Homo sapiens: one gene and its partner. The protein of the gene in region 1 interacts with the protein of each later gene in a biochemical or structural test. Each region holds a gene or a part of one and is shown in the gene's direction. Other genes may lie near its edges.

Region 1 (6,895 bases):
GGAGAGCCAGACTCTGGGTTTGAACCTGCACAGCCAGAAACAATGTCCAAACTATGCCATGGAGCTTCTCTGACAAATACCCCATTGATGTCCCCACTAGGTATGGACATTACAGCCTGCACTGTCCCCACTTAGGTGTGGACACTAGTCTGCACCTTTATCGCTGGCCACTAGATGCCAGTCTGCCACAACACCTCAAAAGCTAGCTACCTTTTTAGCTTTTTACTGGAGTCCTTTAGTAGGTTATCTCATTTAATCCATAAAGCAACCTGGAGAAAGTGACTGCAATTAAGAGGTATGCCAGAAATATTTCAGTATTCTTTAGACCATGCCACATAAGCTCAGACAAGTTCAAATAGCTAGTATATAGCAAGTCTGTTTCTCTGGATTGCATTTGCAAAAATTCTGCATGCTCAGCAGTGCTAGGAAGCTCTATAAAATGATGGTGCAACGAAAAATCATCCCAATGAGGTTAAAAAAGGAGATGCATCCAAAGAGTTCCTACCTAATGAATTTTCTGAGTTTCAGATGTATATATGTGTATGAAAGCTATGAGTGATCATGGACCAATACAACTGAAGAGAACAAGAGAATCTCGAGGTCACAGCAAAAAAAAGTAAGATGCAGAAAGGATTGACATTTCCTGGGACTAAATGCATTTCACTTTTGTTTTAATCACAAAGTAAAACTTACTTATTTGCTTCTGTCAAAAAAAAAAAAAAATACTAGAACTGTTGGAACTAATTTGGAAGCCCAAGATTCGTCAGATCGTCCTGCAAATCCTTTTCTAGAAAAGTTCAAACTTAGACCTATGGAGCGCAAATTGCTGAGCCTCTATCAGTTCTGTTCAGTAATTACAATGCATGCACTTTTTGTCCCATATTGGGCTGCTGACAGATGACTCAAGCAAGGCTCTGTCCTCAGGGAGCTTATAAACCAGTGAGAACAGACACATACATAAATTGATAGTTGTAAAAGGCCATAAGTGCAACAAAAGTTACAGGTAAGTTGCGGGCCCTAAGCTTACTGTGAGGCAGTCAGAGGTGGCTCTTTGGAGAAGACAAGGCTTGAACCTTAAAAGGTGGGCAACTGCATAACCAAACTTGTAGCATAGCTTATGAAGGGAGGTGCAAGTATAATATTACTGAAGGGTAGATTTCAGTTGGACAGGTAGATAGTGGTTAAATCATACAAAAGAACTTGAGAGTTTTGCCTGTAGGTAGGCGATGGGGAATCTGAAGGATTTCAAGTAGCAAATGTTTTCATTTCATTTTATTTTATTTATGTTTTTTAGACAAAGTCTCACTCTGTCGCCCAGGCTAGAGTGCAGTGGCTCAATCTCGGCTCACTGCAACCCCTGCCTCCTAGGTTCAAGCGATTCTCCTGCCTCAGCCTCCCAAGTAGCTGGGAGTAGAGGCATGTGCCACCATGTCTGGATAATTTTTGTATTTTTAGTAGAGATGGGGTTTCACCATGTTGACCAGGGTGGTCTTGAACTCCTGACCTCAGCTGATCCGCCTGCCTCAGCCTCCCAAAGTGCTGGGATTACAGGCATGAACCACTATGCCCGGCCTAAATGTTTTCATTTCAGATGGCTCTGACAGCCTAGGAGGAACTGAAGATAAGAGGAGGAGAATGGGGCAGAGAGTAGCTCAGAGTAACAGATAGTATGGGCAACTGTTAAATTATGGGGAAGAGGAAGGTTAGAGATAAGCAAAAGTACCTTTTTTTTTTTTTTTTTTGAGACAAAAAGCTGGTAGAAAGGCCACCGCAGCCAGCTAATGGTTTGTATTTTTAGTAGAGATGGGGTTTCGCCAATGTTGGCCAGGCTGTTCTCGAACTTCTGACCTTGGGTGATCAGTGCGCCTCGGCCTCCCAAAGTCTTTGGATTACAGGTGTGAACCACCTTGCCTGGCCAAAAGTACCATTTTAAATAAAGAAAAGGAGGAATTCTGCCAATACAAATCTGTGAGCTTGCCATGGGTCACTTGGTTACAAGTGACAAACCCATTAAACTGCCTTCAGTGCTCATTTCCAGCATTGCTGGTTTCCAGCTGTACAAAGTCAAACATTTGTCTCCTTTTATCTGTTTTCTTCTTTATCTTGCTTCATTTCCAAAGTAGTTCTCCCTGCATGGTTGCAAAGATGGTTGCCAGCAACTCCAGCCTTTCTACCAGCTTAGCAACATAGAGGAAAAAGATCAATGTCTGGGAACAACAGACACTGGGGAATACAAGACTGGGGAAGGAGGAAGGGGGCAAGGGTTGAAACTACCTATTGGGTACTATGCTCATTACCTGAAGGACGGATTCGTTCATACTCCAAACCTCAGCACCATGCAATATACCTCTGTAACAAGCCTGCATATATACCCCCGATTCTAAAATAGAAGTTGCAAAAGGAAGTCCCTCTACCAATTCTCATTGGTCTGGCTCAGACCATGGGGCCGACCCTAAACCAGTCTCTGATTAGCCAGACTTGGGTCCTGTTTCCATTCCTAAAGCTGGGGATAGGTGCGCCTCATCTAAACCATGCTGTCTGAATAGCAAGGGAATGGTTCACCATTACTACCCTGCTTGAGAAAAAATTTTTTTGACAGTTTAAATTGCATCATTGACAGCAATGAAGAAAACTTAGCAAATCATCTCTAAACATTTTAAAAGAATGAAGCAGAAAATGTAAGACAGGCTAGTAATTGATCCAAAGGAGAAATTCTGAAGGCCAGAACATAGGAGTCAGTTAATACTGTAATAAATAAATTAGACAATATCCATATATAACAACTATAGGTCCAATCCATCCAAGTGCAACGCTGAAGGGACGTATTGATTGCATAGGCCAGAATGTTGGCAAAAAGCTGGTAAATCCTGCAGGGTGCCACCAGACCGCGTGCTGCAAACAAATAACAGCTAGAGAGAGGAGAGGCTTGGTTGAATTTCGGCCTTGACTGGTCTGAAGACTCCAGAGGCGGGACGAATTTGCGGACAGTTCTACCCCATCCCACATGGCGTCAGCTTCCCTTCCATTCTCATGACTCCATGGTCCATGGCTCCAACCTGGGCCTCTGTTAGGCTGTGTCCTGTGGCACCTTAAACTCAGGCAAATTAAGAACTGTTCGTGGACTCTGCTCAGCCCCCACCTAACCCTCCATCCAAGTCATTGTCCAAGCCAGAAACTGGAGTCATCTCAGATACCTTCCCACTCACACCTCCACATGCAGTCGCTCGATTCCATTCACCTCCCAAGTGTCTCAGTTCATTCTTCCATCCCTCCCGCCACTGGTTTAGTTAGGCCCCTCCATTCTCACCTGGACCATCGCGGTAGCCTCGGAGCTTCTGACTGTGTCTCTGGTTGCAGCCCCTACACGCTCTCTTCCTTACAGGAGCGGAGCGATCTTTCTCAAGCGCGAATCAAATCCTTCCACGAGTCCCCGCACCTGGAGCGAAGGCCAAACTCCTCAGCTTAGAAGCTAGACTGCCAGAGTAGGGAGTGGGAATGGAAAAGTACATCAGGAGCACGAGGGGTATTCGGATGAGGGAAGGCCAGTATAGGGCGCCGAGACCTTGGAGTGTTTCTGAGCTGAGGAGGAATGAGACTTTCACGCGGGCAAGGGGACCCTATCCATGAAACAGGCCCTGGGGAGACTGAAGGAGAGCGGCGCGAGCGAAGGCAGAGGGCGGGGCCCCGAGGTCGGCAGGCGCTGCAGTGTCGGGGGTGGCGAGTCAGCCAGGGCCAGGGGATGGCGGGGTGGGGCCGGAGCCAGGCGACCGGAGGCCTCCGGGGCGGGGCCGGGAGGCTGACGGCCTCCGGGCGGCAGGGGGCGGCCTCTCCCACGGCGGCGGCTCTCGGTCCCCCGCTCCGCGTCTTTCGGGCATACAGTGACCTCGGGCGGCGGGTCACGTCGGCCGGGCATGGCTGCATGGAGCCCGGCCGCGGCAGCGCCTCTCCTCCGCGGGATCCGCGGGGTGAGCGTGGGCAGGGTCGGGGCTGCTCTCCCCGGGACGGGAGCTGCGGAGGGACCGCGGGGCCGGCGGCTGTCGGGGCTTGAGGACTGGCTCCCGGAGGGCGCGCGCGGCACTGGCAATGGGGGGCTCCTCTTCCTTTCTCTCATTCATTCTTTCATTCATTCATTCACTCAGCGACAACGGCATTCGAAATTTCAAGCTCTGGCGCGCTCTAGGGGAGCTCCCGAGCTGGGTGGAGGTTGGAGGTCAGGCGGACAGACACATGAACAGTCATAATACTGCGGGCACAGGAAAAAAAAAGGATTGGTTTACCGAGCAGAAGACAGGAGTCATAGCCCAGAGTCAAGGCGTGGGTGCGAGGGACTGCAGCGGGGCCGGGGCCTTGGGAAGGTCGACTGGGCCTCTGACCTTGATCCTCCTCCAAATCCCACACTACCGGAGCAGAACCCAAGCAGGGGGCACTTCCCACGCGCTCTCCTAATCTCTCCCCCTTTCTGAACCATCCTTTGCTTCAGCTCATACCATTCTTTCTCTTAACTTTCATTTTCCTTCTCCCCTGGTTCTGAACCTGCCTGCCCTGTGCATGAAGAGAAGTTCTTCCACTGCGGTGACTTTCAGCGTGGACAGTGATCATCTGGGGATGTCAGTTGATTGTTCCACTAAAGGCCGCTGCCCACAGATCCGCTAAGATGAAAGGCTTCTCCCAAGGATTCTGCAACGCTCACCTCTCTCACCCCTTAGTAGCTGCCGATTCTGTCTGCCATCTGGTTACTCTCTGCCTTTACCCTCAAGATTCTGCCCCCAGAAGCAGCTCCACCCCACCCTCACTCCTGGCAATCCTGTCCAGCCTCTCAACATCGAGTTTCTGTCCCTCCACACAGCAGGCAGACAATCACACTCTGGACCTTTCTCCTGTCTTGCATTTCTGTCCCTAATTGACTAGTTCTTCCCCTGCTCATTCATTCATCCAGCACCAAGTGCCTCTGAGGGCCTGCCCTGGGGTCAGCTCTGGGATGCTGCCGGACTCATTCCTGGCCTATAAGACCAGTGGTGAGAGAGCCAGTGCACAGCTCATTTTAAAGGAGGTGCTCTGAGATTCTGTGACACAGGACCCTGCTCTGAGCTATCAGGAAGGACTGAGGGGTAGAGGGGTGGGACCTTCAGCACCAGCACCCATGAACGGCCCTAGTGTCCTCCAACCTGTCATCCACGTCTAGTCAGGGACCAGTGCCCGGTGCTTCCATCATTGTAATGCCTCTTACTTGGGCATCTCTCCTGACTCGCTCCAGAAGGCACTGTTTCCTGCAGGTTACTTTGGTCCCATGAGCCTGGGTTCTATCACCTGGAGTCCCATCTCCTGTCCCATACAGTCCACAATCTTTAGCCTGGCATTCAAGGCCTGCCACACTCCATTCCCAGTCTGCCTTTTCAGCATGCACTCAGCCCAGCCAAGTGACTGCCGACCTGCTTTTCTGCTCCTTCACTACTAACTGTTGAGACGTGTTCCATCAGAAACATGGGCTCCCCTGGCCGGGCGTGGTGGCTCATGCCTGTAATCCTAGAATTTTGGGAGGTTGAGGTGGGTGGATCACCTGAGGTCAGGGGTTTGAGACCAGCCTGGCCAACATGGTGAAACCTCATCTCTACTAAAAATACAAAAATTTGCCGAGCGTGGTGGTGGGTGCCTGGAATCCCAGCTACTCAGGAGGCTGGGGCAGGAGAATCGCTTGAACCCGGGAGGTGGAAGTTGCAGTGAGCTGAGATTGTGCCACTGCACTCCAGCCTGGGTAACAGAGCAAAACTCTGTCTCAAAAAAAAAAAAAAAGGAAACACAAACACAGGTTCCCCCATGGTAGCCATTGGGGAAGGGGTGTTGTTGCCAATGGTAAACAACCTACAGATACTCCTTCTTCAGGTTCTTTCATAGAATTCTGACTTTGCTCCCAGTGAGAAGGAGTGCATGATGAAGGATAGCTGGCTAATTGAGCAGTGGGCTGTGAGGTCACATCCCACTGGGGAGGGCGAGACATGTTAATCAGGCCTAAAGGCGAGGGAGTGTGGAATTTGGCCCCACCATCCAGGGCAGTGGATGGCCTAGTGGTATGGATCTGAGGCAGGCTATCCAGCTTTTCTGGCTCTGTATCTTACCGAATTCAACCTTGGGCACATTACTGTGTGCCTCAGTTTCCTTACCTATAAAACTATCGGCATAATAGTGTCACAACATTATATGGAAGCAAACATCTCTTGAATTAGGTTTGGGGCCTCTTGTCTCTGGAGTCAAATTGAGTTATTAACAATCATCCTGTCCCCGCCAATAAAAGTTTATTCTGTGTTTTGGGGCACTTACATGGACTCCTGATACCACAGAGCCCCTCTGACATAACCCATGGCTGTGCTGGCGAGGGCTCAGGGGCCTGCCTTGCAGGGGGAATGGCAGGCGGGCCTGCACAGTGGCCCAGCTCAGGGGCAACAGCATCTTCCTCTGCCCTGACCTTCCTCTCTGTTCTGTGGCAGCTTCCACTTCACCATCGGATGTTTGCCACTCAGACTGAGGGGGAGCTCAGAGTGACCCAAATTCTCAAAGAAAAGTTTCCACGAGCTACAGCTATAAAAGTCACTGACATTTCAGGTAAGGTTTCTCTCACTCTTCCTACGGCGCTTGGATAAGATTTTGCCCTTTGGAAGGACAGAGGGTCAGGGGCTTGGAGGAGGGGGCTTGCTGCTGGTGAGTGGCTTCTCAAGATGTGTTGCTGCTGGACAGGTGGAGCTCGGCTGCCCCCACCTCATGGGATGGCAGTCAGGATTCAGAAATATCAGAGGGAAACTGAGGACAAGGCGCAGCTGGGAGGACTCAAGGTTGCCAGCCTGGCTCAGCTCAGACAAGGTCCCTCTCAGTCACCCTAGAGCTGAGGTCCACAGTCTGTCAT
Region 2 (7,017 bases), on another chromosome or scaffold:
CAGCCATTTTGCCCTTAATATGACATTTGCAGAATGTTCTGGCCAGCTCAGATAGACACTTCTGTACCACACGTTCTCATGCAAACACACCCTCTCATTTTCTAAGAACAAACAAGAATGCAGCACTGAGCATAAAATGAACAGGGCCAGTGCGGCGGCTCACACCTGTAACCCTAGCACTTTGGGAGGGCAAGGCGGGAGGAGTATTCGAGACCAGGTGTTGGAGACCAGTCTGGGCAACCTACTGAGACCTCATCTTTTTAAAAAATAATTTTTTAAAAAAGTAAAGGTACAGAAACACTGACATGTGGAGTGCTCAGATAAAGCATCACCTTCAGTTCAATAATCTGAACTCTAGTTCTTCATTTGGGGCTGATAAACGGAAGAAGCTATCTCAGATATGTGGAGGTTTACACGATGAATTCAATGGCGAATTTGTTTTTGGAGAAGTGGATAGAAAACAGGAGTTCTACCAAATATAGTAAAGCCTTATCTATAAATAAACACAAGGAAGAAAAACATTTTTAGGATGCCTGAGTCAGCATGTTTACACGGCATGATTATTTAGTTTGGGGTTTAACCAATCCTGTGACTCAAATCCCAGGATTCTCAGAAGTTCCTGAGTACTTCCCACCCTCACCTCTTCACTAATGTTCACGAGGCAGGAAGCCATCACATGCTAAGACAGGCCATTTACTCAAAACACCCAAAACATCTGGTCATAGATGCAGACTGATGACAACTGTTTATTTAAGATGTATATTTTGTCATGTTTTCATCATAGGACTAAAGAGGAATCTCAAAACCAAAATGCCAAACTTTATGCAAAAGTCTGATACTTTGGACGAAGTATTTTGAATACTGTTTTCTTTGCTTCTTAAGATCACTGATGTTTGGTGCTAAGTATTTCACTATATTTTGGGTTGTTTTATTAAAAATTTAAATTTAGATGTATTGTTTCAATTTCTTTGGTTCAGATACATGATCTGTTTCCTGCCCTTGCTCATGCTATCAAAATAGCTCCTTGAAAGAGCACCAACATGCTTTTCCATATCCTTAGCATTTCACACACTGTATGTTCTTATCATATTCTACAAAAACACGGCAACTTCACTATGATTTAGCAAAACACAGGCTTTGTACTCTTCCTTCTCAAGGATTACTCTTAATCTTTAATGGCAGCTGCATTCTCAACTTAATACAACGTTCAACAAATAAAAAAGACAACTGCTTCTGAGCCCAATATTATACATTAGGTAAGGAACACGATACTCCTCATTACTGTTCTGTCTCAGGATATAAGTTTGCAAATTCTTCTCCTGATCTCAGTCAACATAAAAGCAGAATTACAGTTTAGAGTGGGCAATGAGAAAGGTGGAATCAAAATAGACACAGGGAAGGCCATAAAGAGTTCGCAAGCATAAATGCCTGATAGCAAAAACGATCACAGAAGATTCCAAAACCACAATCCTGCACAAAGGCCATCTCAATCTTACACAAAAAATACTTCTGCAATGCCTGCCGAGCACCTGCCTGTCCAACCTGGGACTGGTGTCACCTTTGTTACTGATCCTTGTAGTCAAAAATAATTATCTCAAAACAATTATGTAACCCTCCTCATTTTTCCTTTAAAGACCTTTGTCTTCCTCTATCTCCCAGGATACACACAGTTAACTATCGCATGCATTTTCTCATTGCAGTGCTCTATTCCTGAATAAATGCCATTTTCTTTTAGAGAGCCTCTCTCTGTTCGTTATTTAAGTTGACAGCAACAAACAGTTTAGGTTTTTGGCAACAAATCACCAATATTTACTTAAAAACAAACAAAACACTTACAACACAGGTAGGAACAACAGGTTATTTTGGAAAGAGTTTAATATATTCTCTATTGTTAAGTGCACCAGATGCTGGACTTCTGAAACAACAATTATGCTTCTGCATAATAGCTTTTTCTACATATTTCTGTTCATGTTGCTTGTTCCTCTGATTTACCTGGAATCAATGAATCTGAAAAACAAAAAGATTCTTTAAGCACCTGGTAAATTTCAGGTCCCACATTAGAAAATGAGCAATCATCAATAATATTGATGGGGGTGAAAATATGACATTGAGACTTTCGGGTAATGTGCCGAGTTTACTTTCATAGTTTACTAGGCTCAGGTTTCATGCCGAAGGATTATTTGAAAGACTCACTCACTGACATGATTTTCTGATTTTAAATTCGAACACTCTCAAAGCATAAACAGATCACCTCCAGCAACATTGTAAAAAAATACTCAAAGTTTAAAAAAAAAAAAGTAACTTGTGGCAGTACTTAGTGTTCAACAGAAAACACTCCATCTGCTAAACAATATCTCGACTGCAAAGCTTCTCTTACTGTTGGCGGATAGATAATGACATAGCCCAGTCATTATCACCGTGGCAACAGTGACCAGAAACTATCAGAGGAAAATTGCACATGGAACAGCTGGCTCTCGAGCAGGCATGCCTCAGCTTCCTCTGGAGTATGCTTTTTCTGCAAGTCTGGTGTGCTCGAGGGTACCACCAACCCTGTGCGGCTCCAAGACTACAGATTATGTAGCAAGTCCACTGGTCCTGCTCTTCCGGATTTATTCTTCCCGCCAATAGGAGCACTTACCACGTTCCAAGCATCGTCCTAGGCACTGAGGATACAGCAGTGAATAAAACTGAGTGCTGGGTAGGAAGTCAATAACCAAGCTAGTAAATAACTGTATATTGTCAAGCACTGGTAAGTACAAGGGAGAGCAGAGCAAGCAATGGGCCTGATGAGGCTTGCTTTGTCTCCTCTGCACTCCCACACTGCTTTGTATCTGCTTCTCATTTCTCACGATGGGTCCAAGCTTTGGGCACCAGGTCTCCCTGGACATTCCGCGCTGGCACTGCGCCTAGCACCCAGCGGCTGCTCAGGAAACGTTTGTCGAACGAACGAATTCACTTCTTAGTTCCCCATTCAACAAACCTTTCCTGATCCTAGGCCCAACAGGTTAAAAGGCTGGAGGGCCAACGAGGCTGGAAACTCAGAGGCGGCCGGGGGCGGTGGCTCACGCCTGTAATCCCAGCACTTTAAGAGGCCGAGGCAGGAGGATCCCTTGAAGCCAGGAGTTCGAGACCAGCCTGGGCAAAAAAGTGAGACATCGACCCCCCGCCCCCGCCGCCAATTCCGTCTCTACAAAAAGGAAGAAAAAAAAAAAAAACCCAGAGGAAATCACACAGGCAAAAGCGCTTTACAAATTTTAAAAATGAAAACTGTTCTAGAGAAATAATCGCGCGCCGGAGGCGGAAGCCCCAGAGCCTCAGCTCCCACGTGGCGGCGGAGCCAGGGAAAGTCCAGGAGCCAAGGCTACGGCCCGAGCGCTGGAACCCCGGTCAGGCTCCGGCTCCCCGCCACGACGAACTGCATGCGGCCGCGGCGCTCCGGAGGCGCCCGGGGACGCTCACCTAAGCTGGGAGAGGCGGATACCCGCCCGGCCTAGCCCCGCTACCTCCCAAGAGACCAACACGACAAGCGCGCGCCCACCGCATTGCCATGGCAATTCAACCGCCGCTGACACCGGAACCGGAAACTTCATCAGGAGGTGACCCCTTCCCGGCGTTCCGCGGAACGGGCGAGTCCCGCGCCTCTCCCAGTTGTCTCGGCGTAGTCCAGCTGGCCTCATTGGCTCACAGGAGGAAAGTCGTCTTCCCTCTTGTTTTGCCTCTCGTTGCCCTGCAAGCGTGACCCTGATGGACATCCAGTCTCTCCAATTAACTAACAAAGCGGTTGCCGACGACCAATAGTAAGGCAGTAGGATGAGGCTCCGGCATAAGGCCCACCTCCTACCTGCCGGGCGGGACGAGCAACATGATTGGTGGAATCGAGTAATTACTGATCAGTATTGTCCAATCACGGAGGGCAGTTTAGAGCCGGCCCAATGAGGGCCTCCAGGGGGCGGGTCGGACTGCCGCGGGCCGGGGAGCGCTCTGGGTGGCCAGCTGTGGGCCCGGGCCGTCGTGGGCTCCGGCTTGCGTGCGGAGATGAGCGGGTCCCTCGGCCGAGCTGCGGCGGCTCTGCTCCGCTGGGGGCGCGGCGCGGGCGGCGGTGGCCTTTGGGGTCCGGGCGTGCGGGCGGCGGGCTCGGGCGCGGGCGGCGGCGGCTCGGCGGAGCAGTTGGACGCGCTGGTGAAGAAGGACAAGGTGGTGGTCTTCCTCAAGGGGACGCCGGAGCAGCCCCAGTGCGGCTTCAGCAACGCCGTGGTGCAGATCCTGCGGCTGCACGGCGTCCGCGATTACGCGGCCTACAACGTGCTGGACGACCCGGAGCTCCGACAAGGTCAGGCCAGTGTGCCGGGCAGGCGCCCTCCGCCCCGGGCCCAGGAGCATCGCTGCACGAGGCCGAGGGGTTCCGCCGCGCCGGGCTGGGGAGCGGGGCTCCATCCGCCGGGGTCTGTCTGAAGGTTCGAGCCGGGTTAGGGCGAGGAGTACTGCCCTGGAGTAGAGTCTGGGCTGAGGGTGTAGTTGATTTCACTGGGTCTTGAGGATCTGGGGCTCTGTACTGTTGCCAACTTGAGCAGTAGGTAAAGTCCTAAAGGTTCACTTATCCTCACTTCGAGCTAATATAGGCGTTTCGGGGCGATTTGTCAATGACTGACTCGGAGGAGGGTGGCCCGCTGCCTGACTGCTCTGCACGGTTAGGAAACTCATAGTAAGGACCCACTGTGAGATAGGTACTTTCGCGGACACTTTGGGGAGGTTGGAAGCCATTGGCCTACTCGTGGGTAAGGTCTAGGGCTGTCGATGGTGGGGAGAGGGCTGAGGTTGCCCTTGAGGCTAGTGAGGTCGGAGGCTGATCTCGCTTGGCTCACGGCTCAGGGTGTCAAGCATCATCCTCTGTGGTTGCTACAAGCAAAGGGTTGGGACAGCTGTCGGCTGACCTTAGTCGGGATCTATGTTGTCGGGGAAGAGTCATGACATTTGGCTTTAGATACTCAAGCACAGGGCTGAATTTATGTGGGCCAGGGCTTGGAGAGGTTTGTGGGGAAAAGAAGCAGCCCTGGCTCCTGGGCCCTGGGCTAACTCACTGGCTCAGCCTTGGAGCCCAGGGGGCCAGGGCACCAGGGACCAGATGGATTAGGCCGGGAGAGGGAAGGCTGCAGCTAATAAGCATCTTTTCCAAGTACTCCACGTGCATTCGCCAGTCTTATCTGAGTAGGGGAGGAGGAAGAGGCCAGGCACAAGGGCCTGCTCCTTGGCCAGGATGGTCAGGGTTGGTGGAAAACTGGGAAGGCTGTACCTTTTCCTTCTAGAGAGTGACTTAGGATACCTGCATCCCAGTTAGAGACTTTCAGTGACTGAGTCCCTGCATGTCCCTAGCTAAAAAGAGGTGCCAGTTGTGTGCTAAAAATAGGTGCCAGGTTCTCTGTTACTCTAAATTCGAAATTACTAATCATAGTCATTGCTTACAATGATGAGACAGGCTGGTGTTTGGAAAAGCTTTGGGTTGACATCCTCTTCTGTGGCTAATCAGGTGTAAAACTTAAGTCACTCACCTGCATTTGAGGATAATGAGACAATTTGGCAAAGTTTGTGTTAGGAAGCCAAAGTAAAAATTATAGAAAGTGTGTATTATTTTACCTGGCACAGAAAGCACCCGGTAAATGGTAGCTGGCTTCGTATTAGCACTTGATGGTTTTCAAATGTATTTTTTCCCAGATTATCTAGTCCTTAAAGACTCTTGGGGATAACTGATCCTCCATTTGCTGTAGGTGATAGTGGTGGTGGGTGGGACCTAGAAAGCATGTTGAGTTGAGGAGTCGAGAGGGCAGGTTCAAATTACCACGTATATGTAATATTACCATGTGTTATTCTCATGACCCTTTTGTCTTCCTTGTCAACTAGTATGCCACCAGTTACTGGGCTCAGTTTTATCATGTGCAAGGCAAGGGACCTGCAGTCTTCCTTCGAAGACAGCTTCTCTGCTTAAAAGAGGAGTAACTATTTTGCAGTCTTTTGACAGAGACCTTGCAGGGAGTCCCCTGCAAATTGCCAATATGGCACTAGTAAAAAAGTGGTGTTGTTATCTCGCTTAGTATCATGTTTCGAGGGTCTTTGGTTTGTGAATTTATTTTCTCTTGTTTAATATAACTGGAAATGAGATATGCTGGAATATAGCTAGTAAACGGAAAATAGGAGCAAAAATACGAATATGTACTGATAACATTTTATTTTTCTGTCTTTTATCCACGTCTGGTGTCTGGTTTCTGAGCTTACTTTCTTAAGTTTTCAAACAGCAGCGACAGGAATTTAACCCTTACATTCCTTGACCACTGAGTTTCATCAGATTGCTATTTTGGTTAATAAACGCGTTGCATATATATTGAATATAACATACCTCTTTTATTGATTAGAAAAGTAAAGATTAGTAAGTATTAACATTTGGACTGGGCAGGGTGGTAAAAGCACGTTCCCCAAATGGGGATTAGTTCAGCCAGGTTATTAAGACTCTTCCCCTCTTCCCTATACAGCTTTATTTACCAAGAGCAACTAACGGGCTGTCCGATGCTTGCTTTTGCCAGCCGAAACTATGTTTGTACACCAGATCCAAGGTCATTTCTAGTAATAGGAACGGAGCTCTTGCAAAACTGGCCTTTTGTTGGTTCTTATGCCAAGGAGACCTGAACTTTACAAAGTGCCTAAACCGGAGGAAAACATTCTTTCCTAGTTTTGAGTACTGGGTTCCCAGGAGTGTGATACAGACACATCTTGAGACTGTGACCCAAGGAACAAAGGTGACTATGAGGCAGCATTGTGTTCTGGCCTTCTCAAGACCTTCTTGTCCTTCTCTTTTTATCTGGAGTGCACACAGAAGACAGTCACAAAGGGATCAGGTCCCAGTAGACTGACATCATCATTTCCTAATCCTGGTCTTAATAAAGGAACTTATGCTCATGGAAGCAATGTAGAAAACACTGAAAAGTTTAAAGAAGGAAAATCACCTGTAATTTATGGAAACTATTGTAT

What was found. Proteins that work in one complex are often made in the same cells at the same time.
Region 2: the proteins of BOLA3 (region 1) and GLRX5 form a complex in vitro, tested with the Homo sapiens proteins (4 studies listed by BioGRID and IntAct, with this or other methods).

Annotation. Positions count from the first base shown.
Region 1 is NC_000002.12:74,144,891-74,151,785, reverse strand, and holds the start of BOLA3 (bolA-like protein 3), read left to right. Parts: upstream 1-3,873; 5' UTR 3,874-3,911; coding exon 3,912-3,965; intron 3,966-6,482; coding exon 6,483-6,597; intron 6,598-6,895. UniProt on the Homo sapiens protein: Acts as a mitochondrial iron-sulfur (Fe-S) cluster assembly factor that facilitates (Fe-S) cluster insertion into a subset of mitochondrial proteins. Probably acts together with NFU1.
Region 2 is NC_000014.9:95,531,055-95,538,071, forward strand, and holds the start of GLRX5 (glutaredoxin-related protein 5, mitochondrial precursor), read left to right. Parts: upstream 1-3,995; 5' UTR 3,996-4,035; coding exon 4,036-4,330; intron 4,331-7,017.